Linked DNA regions of Homo sapiens: region 2 is linked to region 1. Evidence: fine-mapped expression QTL. A gene starts in region 1. The other region holds a variant in brackets. All regions are shown on one strand. Distances are between the middles of the regions. Region 1 holds the start of CHKB-DT (CHKB divergent transcript). Region 2 overlaps KLHDC7B-DT (KLHDC7B divergent transcript).

What was found. PIP is the estimated chance that this variant, and not a neighbour inherited with it, causes the effect.
Region 2: its variant is fine-mapped to the expression of CHKB-DT in whole blood (INTERVAL, PIP 0.95).

Annotation. Positions count from the first base shown.
Region 1 is chr22:50,581,805-50,584,752 of GRCh38, forward strand. CHKB-DT (CHKB divergent transcript) reads left to right here and starts at 1,222. Exons shown (of 4, transcript NR_110536.1): 1 at 1,222-1,519. CHKB (choline kinase beta) reads right to left here and starts at 1,045. Exons shown (of 11, transcript NM_005198.5): 1 at 754-1,045; 2 at 445-553; 3 at 1-58. The coding sequence starts at 977. CHKB-CPT1B (CHKB-CPT1B readthrough (NMD candidate)) reads right to left here and starts at 1,195. Exons shown (of 30, transcript NR_027928.2): 1 at 754-1,195; 2 at 445-553; 3 at 1-58. RefSeq lists silencers at 542-741, 1,072-1,161, 1,192-1,591.
Region 2 is chr22:50,540,224-50,542,940 of GRCh38, forward strand. KLHDC7B-DT (KLHDC7B divergent transcript) reads right to left here. Exons shown (of 4, transcript NR_199716.1): 4 at 2,080-2,676. It overlaps LOC102724608 (a long non-coding RNA gene), which reads left to right. Exons shown (of 2, transcript XR_430484.4): 1 at 1-1,233; 2 at 2,344-2,717. Among named protein-coding and RNA genes, the nearest start is that of KLHDC7B, 4.3 kb to the right of the region's middle. RefSeq lists enhancers at 919-998, 1,059-1,168, 1,457-1,751, 2,440-2,609. The variant T/G (reference allele first, on the strand shown) is at 1,104.

The DNA.
Region 1 (2,948 bases):
GCGACCGCTCCGCAAGTATGGCGAACATCACGCTTTCTAGCACCAGGGAGTCCACGCCCTGAAAAAGGATGGACAGCAAAGGGGCCAAGGCAAAGTGGCACAGGGACACACATGAGGGCTCGCCTTCCTCCCACCAGAGCTGCGACTTCTGATCCAATTGCCTGGAGGCTCTGGAGCACAGGCTTTAGCGTTGGTCTATTTTTATTTAGAGATGGGGGTCTCACTATGTTGTCCAGGCTGGTCTCGAACTCCTGTGCTCAAGTGATCCTCTCGCCTCAGCCTCCCAAAGCTCTGGGAATACAGGCCCAGGCTTCGGTGTAATGAGGTGTTACTCAGACCGTGAACCTCGGTGTCCTCAACTGCGCAACGGGAACAATACTACCCGCATCGCGTAAGCGACAGGCCCTAAAGCCACTGGTGCTGCGGCGCTCACACCCCCCTCACCTGCAAGATGGCTCCGTACAGCCGCAGAAGCACCTCCCGGGGCTCCTCGCCAACGCTGGGCAGGTGGTCCGGGAGCGAGCAGCGGAAGAGCAGGTTGCTGAGGCCTCCGCTGCAGACCCACACCAGGCGCGCTCAGCCCGCGGCCGGCCCTACCTGCCGCGGCCCCGGCCCCCTCCCGGCCAGGCCGGCCCCGCCCCGCCCCAGGCGCGGGCGCAAGAGGGGGGCGAAAACATGGAGCATCCTGAGGGCCCCGCGGCTGACCCCTGACCCCGATCCGCGCACCGGAGAGGCTGACCCCTGACCTCCCACCTCACGGGGTAAACCCTCAGCTCCTCGGGCTGCACTCGGCGCCAGGCCCCGCCCAAGTACTCCCGGCACCATTGGTAGGCTCGGCGCTCGGCGTCACGCGACAGCGACGAGGCGCGCCGCCGTTTTGGGGTAGTGTCCGGGCACTTAGACTGCTGCAAGCCGTCTTTGGCCAGGCAGCCGCCAACAGCCCCGCTTCCGGCCACAGCTGTCGCCTCGGCCGCCATGGCGCGGGCTCGACCGGGCCCCAGGCCAGGCTGCGCTCCGCTCCCTTCGGACGGGCTCGGTTCCTTCCGGCCGCGCTCGGCTCCTCTTCCGGCCGGCCTGGGCTTCTCCGGTCATACTCGGGTCTCTCCGGCTCTATTCGGCTCACGGCTGCGGCGCTCGGCTCTCTCCGTGCCCCGGCCCGGGGGCTCTTTCCGAAGGCCGAATTCCGCAGATCTCTGCCGGGCCCCGCCCCTATGGGCAAGGACCAATGGTCTCTCTCTGGGCGGGGCTGCTGTTGGACGGCCTGGGCCAATCCGAGGCGCCGGAGGCCAATCAGTTGGCGGAGCGGCGCGTGCGCGGGCGAGGAACTGCCCGGGCGCGGTAGCGTACGGGAAGACCGGAGAGGAGCTGCGTCTCTGCCCCGTGGGAGCCGGCGGGGCGGCGGGGCGGCGGCTGCAGCTGCAGCTCCGGCGCGAGGGCTCCCTTGCCGGGCCCTCTTCCCCGACCCCTGGGGCGCTCCGACAAGGAAGAGCCGTCCAGCGCGCGTCCGTCCTGAGCGTGGGTGAGGCCTGGAGGAGGCGCGCGCGCTAGGCAGGGCCGCACAGCGCGGGCAGAGTGCGGGATGCGGGCACCCGGTGGGTACGCAGTAAACATTTGCTGAAGGAATGTGACCCTTGGGACAGTTCCGATGACTCCAGTTGCATAAATGCCCAGTCTACACGGGGACTCCCTGGCCGGTAGAGCCGCACCTCTGAATGAGGAGTCTTTTGCTGCCCCGCTTGAGATGCGCGTCTTCATTCATTCCCCTCTCCCCCTATCCTCCTCGTCTCCTCCAGGCCTAGAACCAATTACAGAGTCAAACCCAAGAGCCGAAGAAAGTGAAGACTCGCAGCTTGCCGCAGCCCCCTCCTCGGCCTGCGCACCTCCCATTGAGGGCGTCCTGATTTAAACGCGTGCCTCCTGCATTTCTGCTTCTGCCCCAGGCTAGAGCGGCGACCAGGAACGCTGGACCCACAGAGATCTGTGGCAATGTCTGTCGAACCATGGTGTTCTTTGGGGCATCTGACTAGAGTATTGTTTGATAACCAGAAAGAAATCAAAAATTGGTGATCACAAGGCTAATGTCACTTTTGCTGCAGTGGAAAATCATGATCATTCTGTTTAAATCTGAGTCAGTTTTGAGACCTAGAGCCCATTAATTGACAAGGAGGCTTGGTTCCTCTCAGGAAGGATCTTACAATACCAGCATCTGAGCATATACCAAGAAATATTCCTCCAATCCTTCCCTAAAGGGACCTAGAGCCACTTTAAAAAGTAACTGGTCCGGGCGTGGTGGCTCACGCCTGTACTCCCAGCATTTTGGGAGGCCGAGGCGGGCAGATCACTTGAGGTCAGGAGTTTGAGACCACCCTGGCCAACATAGCGAAACCCCGTCGCTACTAAAAATACAAAAATTAGCCGGGTTTGGTGGCTTGTGCCTGTAATCCCAGCTACACGGGAGGCTGAGGCGTGACAATCCCTTGAACCCAGGCCTTGTTGCCGCGAGCCACTGCACTCCAGCCTGAGCGACAGAGTCAGACTCAGTCTCAAAAAAAAAAAAAAAAAAAAGAAAACTGATTCTGGCTGGGGGCAGTGGGTCACGCTTTTAATCCCTGCACTTTGGGAAGCCGAAGTAGGAGGATCGTTTGAGCCCAGGAGTTTGAGACCAGCCTGGGCAACATAGCAAGAACCTGTCTTTACAAAAATTAAAAGATTAGCTGGGCGTGGTGGCAGGTGCCTGTGGTTCCAGCTACTCTGGATGCTGAGGTGAGAGAATCACTTAAGCCCAGGAGGTCAAGGCTGCAGTGACCTGTGTTCACGCCACTGCACTCCAGCCTGAGCAACACAGCAAGACTGTCTGAACAGCAACAACAAACACACCAAAAAAACTAGTTTACTTCGGAAAAGGGACTGTCTAGGTCTTTGAAGGGCTGATACAGGATCTGAGCTGA
Region 2 (2,717 bases), 42 kb before region 1:
CAAAAAAAAAAAAAAAAGGAAAAGATAAGAAAAACAAGTGTTTATATGAAGTATTTTCTCAGAAAAAGAGTAACCCAAATACTTTTCAAGTCCATGTGGCTTGATTAATCTTTAATAAATAAGAATATTGGTGATTTAGTAAAAATGGATATTCTACCTAGCTTTGTTAATCAAATAAACTCATATTATCTCTGTTACAAAATTTGTCAGCAAGAAAATTTTGTATATATATATATGTTTTTTTTAGTAGAGATGGGGTTTCTCCATGTTCGCCAGGCCGGTCTCGAACTCCCGACCTCAGGTGATCTGCCTGACCTCCGCCTCCCAAAGTGCTGGGATTACAGACGTGAGCCACCGCGCCCGGTCTTTTTTTAACTGACATCTTCATTCCATCATCTGAAGAGGCTGCAATCTCTGGGCTCAAAAACTAAGATCATAGTCACTGGTAGTCAAAAAAAAAAAAAACGAACAAGGCTAAGGTCATAATTTACTCCAAAGATTAACCTTTGTTAAATTATTTTGTTTCCATAGAACAATACTTTGAATTCCCCATCATGCAATGCAATCTGAAATGAACAACTTAGCCTCAACAGTGTTCCAAACTAGAAGCTCTTGATACCTTAGGAGCTTAACAAATAAGAGCTTGTGTTCTTGATAAGAAAATTTCCTTATCAATACGTTAGAAATTGTTTTCCAAAATTTAAAGACTCTTAAGAAACAAATGTAAGTCTCTCATGAGATAGACGACGCCGTTGGTTGATTTAATGGGTTAAATCTTGGCTCCTGGGGATCTCAGCTGCAGGGAGTTGCTGAGTCCTTGGTGGTTTTTCTTACAGTCATTGTGTTTACCCAGTTCCTTCATTGTATCCTCTCAAGGGTTTCAACACTTTCCAGCAGCCACTCTCACATCAAATGATTGCCATCAGGATTAAACAACTTACAGAATTCAACACCCCACCACCCAGGTCTATGATGGTGATCACCTGTACACGACTCTGCACTCCAGTGACTACGTCACTCAGTGGTAACAGAGAGCAAAGCTCTACCATCTGGTCATCCTCTCAGCTTGCCCAGTGGGGATTTGTTGAAGTAAATTTTTTTTT[T/G]TTTTTGTGACGGAGTCTCGCTCTGTCACCCAGGCTGGAGTGCAGTAGTGCGATCTCAGCTCACTGCAACCTCTGCCTCCTGGGTTCAGCAATTCTCCTGCCTCAGCTTCCCGAGTAGCTGGGATTACAGGTGAGTACCACCATGCCCAGCTAATTTTTTTGTATTTTTAGTGGAGACGGGGTTTCACCATGTTGGCCAGGCTGGTCTCCAACTCCTGATCTCAGGTGATCCACCTGCCTTGGCCTCCCAAAGTGCTGGGATTACAGGTGTGAGCCACTGCACCCGGGCTGTTTAAGTAAACTAAAATGGAGACCGGGCCTGAAGAATCCCTAAGCAGACAAAACAAGTTAGGTCTCGTAAGTGACTTCAGCCTTGCTTAAATTGAAAACATAAGTGAAACTTAACTTGAGCCATTATTTTGTTTGTTTGTTTTTCAGTAGAGACAAGGTCTTGCTATGTTGCCCAGGCTGGTCTCAAAGACTAGTCATCTGCCCTGCCTCGGCCTCACACCCAAAGTGCTGGGATTACAGGCATGAGTCATTTCTTTTTTTTCTTTTTTGAGACAGAGTCTTCTCTGTTGCCCAGGCTGGAGTGCAATGGCGCAATCTTGGCTCACTGCAACTTCTGCCTACCGGGTTCAAGCAATTCTCCCACCTCACCCTCCCGAGTAGCTGGGATTACAGGCACTTGCCATCATGCCCAGCTAATTTTTGTATTTTTGTAAAGATGGGGTTTCACTATGTTGACCAGGCTGGTCTTGAACTCCTGACCTCAGGTGATCTGCCCACCTCAGCCTCCCACCCAAAGTGCTGGGATTATAGGCGTGAGCCACCATGCCTGGCTGAGTTGTTTCTGATAAATGCTTCCATTAGACAGAGATAAATTTTAATCTACCCAATCATAAGTAACCAACTATCATGATTATATAACTACTGACTTTCCAACAGGATAAGCCAAAGAAAGCAACTCTATAACTGTAACCAATCAAATAATTTCTTTATTGTGCTTCTACATTTTCCCAATAAAAACTTGCACTTGATGTTTTGTCTCTGGAATACTAACGCTCTTTCAGTCAGGTGTTCCCCAATTCATAAATTGCTTTTCACTCAAATAAACCCTTTAAAATTTTGTTGTGAGTCAGATGTTTCTTTAACGCATGGTTGCAAAACGTGCTGTTAGTAAGGAACATGACTGAGATCTACATTCAGGTCCTAGTGCAGTTTCTTTTGCTGTCACCAGGGCCATCTTGCTGGCTTGCCACAGGTTATGTGATAATGACTGGGCATCATTCATGGGAAACTGCACTGCGTAAGCAGGCCTGGCTAGGCCCACAGTAGGCCCCGGGCACATTTTCAGCTGCGAAGCGGAGGACTAGCAACCGGTGAGGTAGAAGGAGAACCAAGAGATGGTGGGAGAATGGGAACTGAGCTGAGAGAGCTTCCGGAAGGTTGCGGTGGCCTAGGGCGATCCACGTCATTGAGAAACGGCGTTAGGCTGATTTCACGGGGCAGATGACATGGAAGTGCTGCTGAGGAAGACGCTGAGCTCCGAGGTGAAAAGGGATGAGGACGCCTAAGAAGACACGAGCGCAATACCTAATACAATTTCCTGAA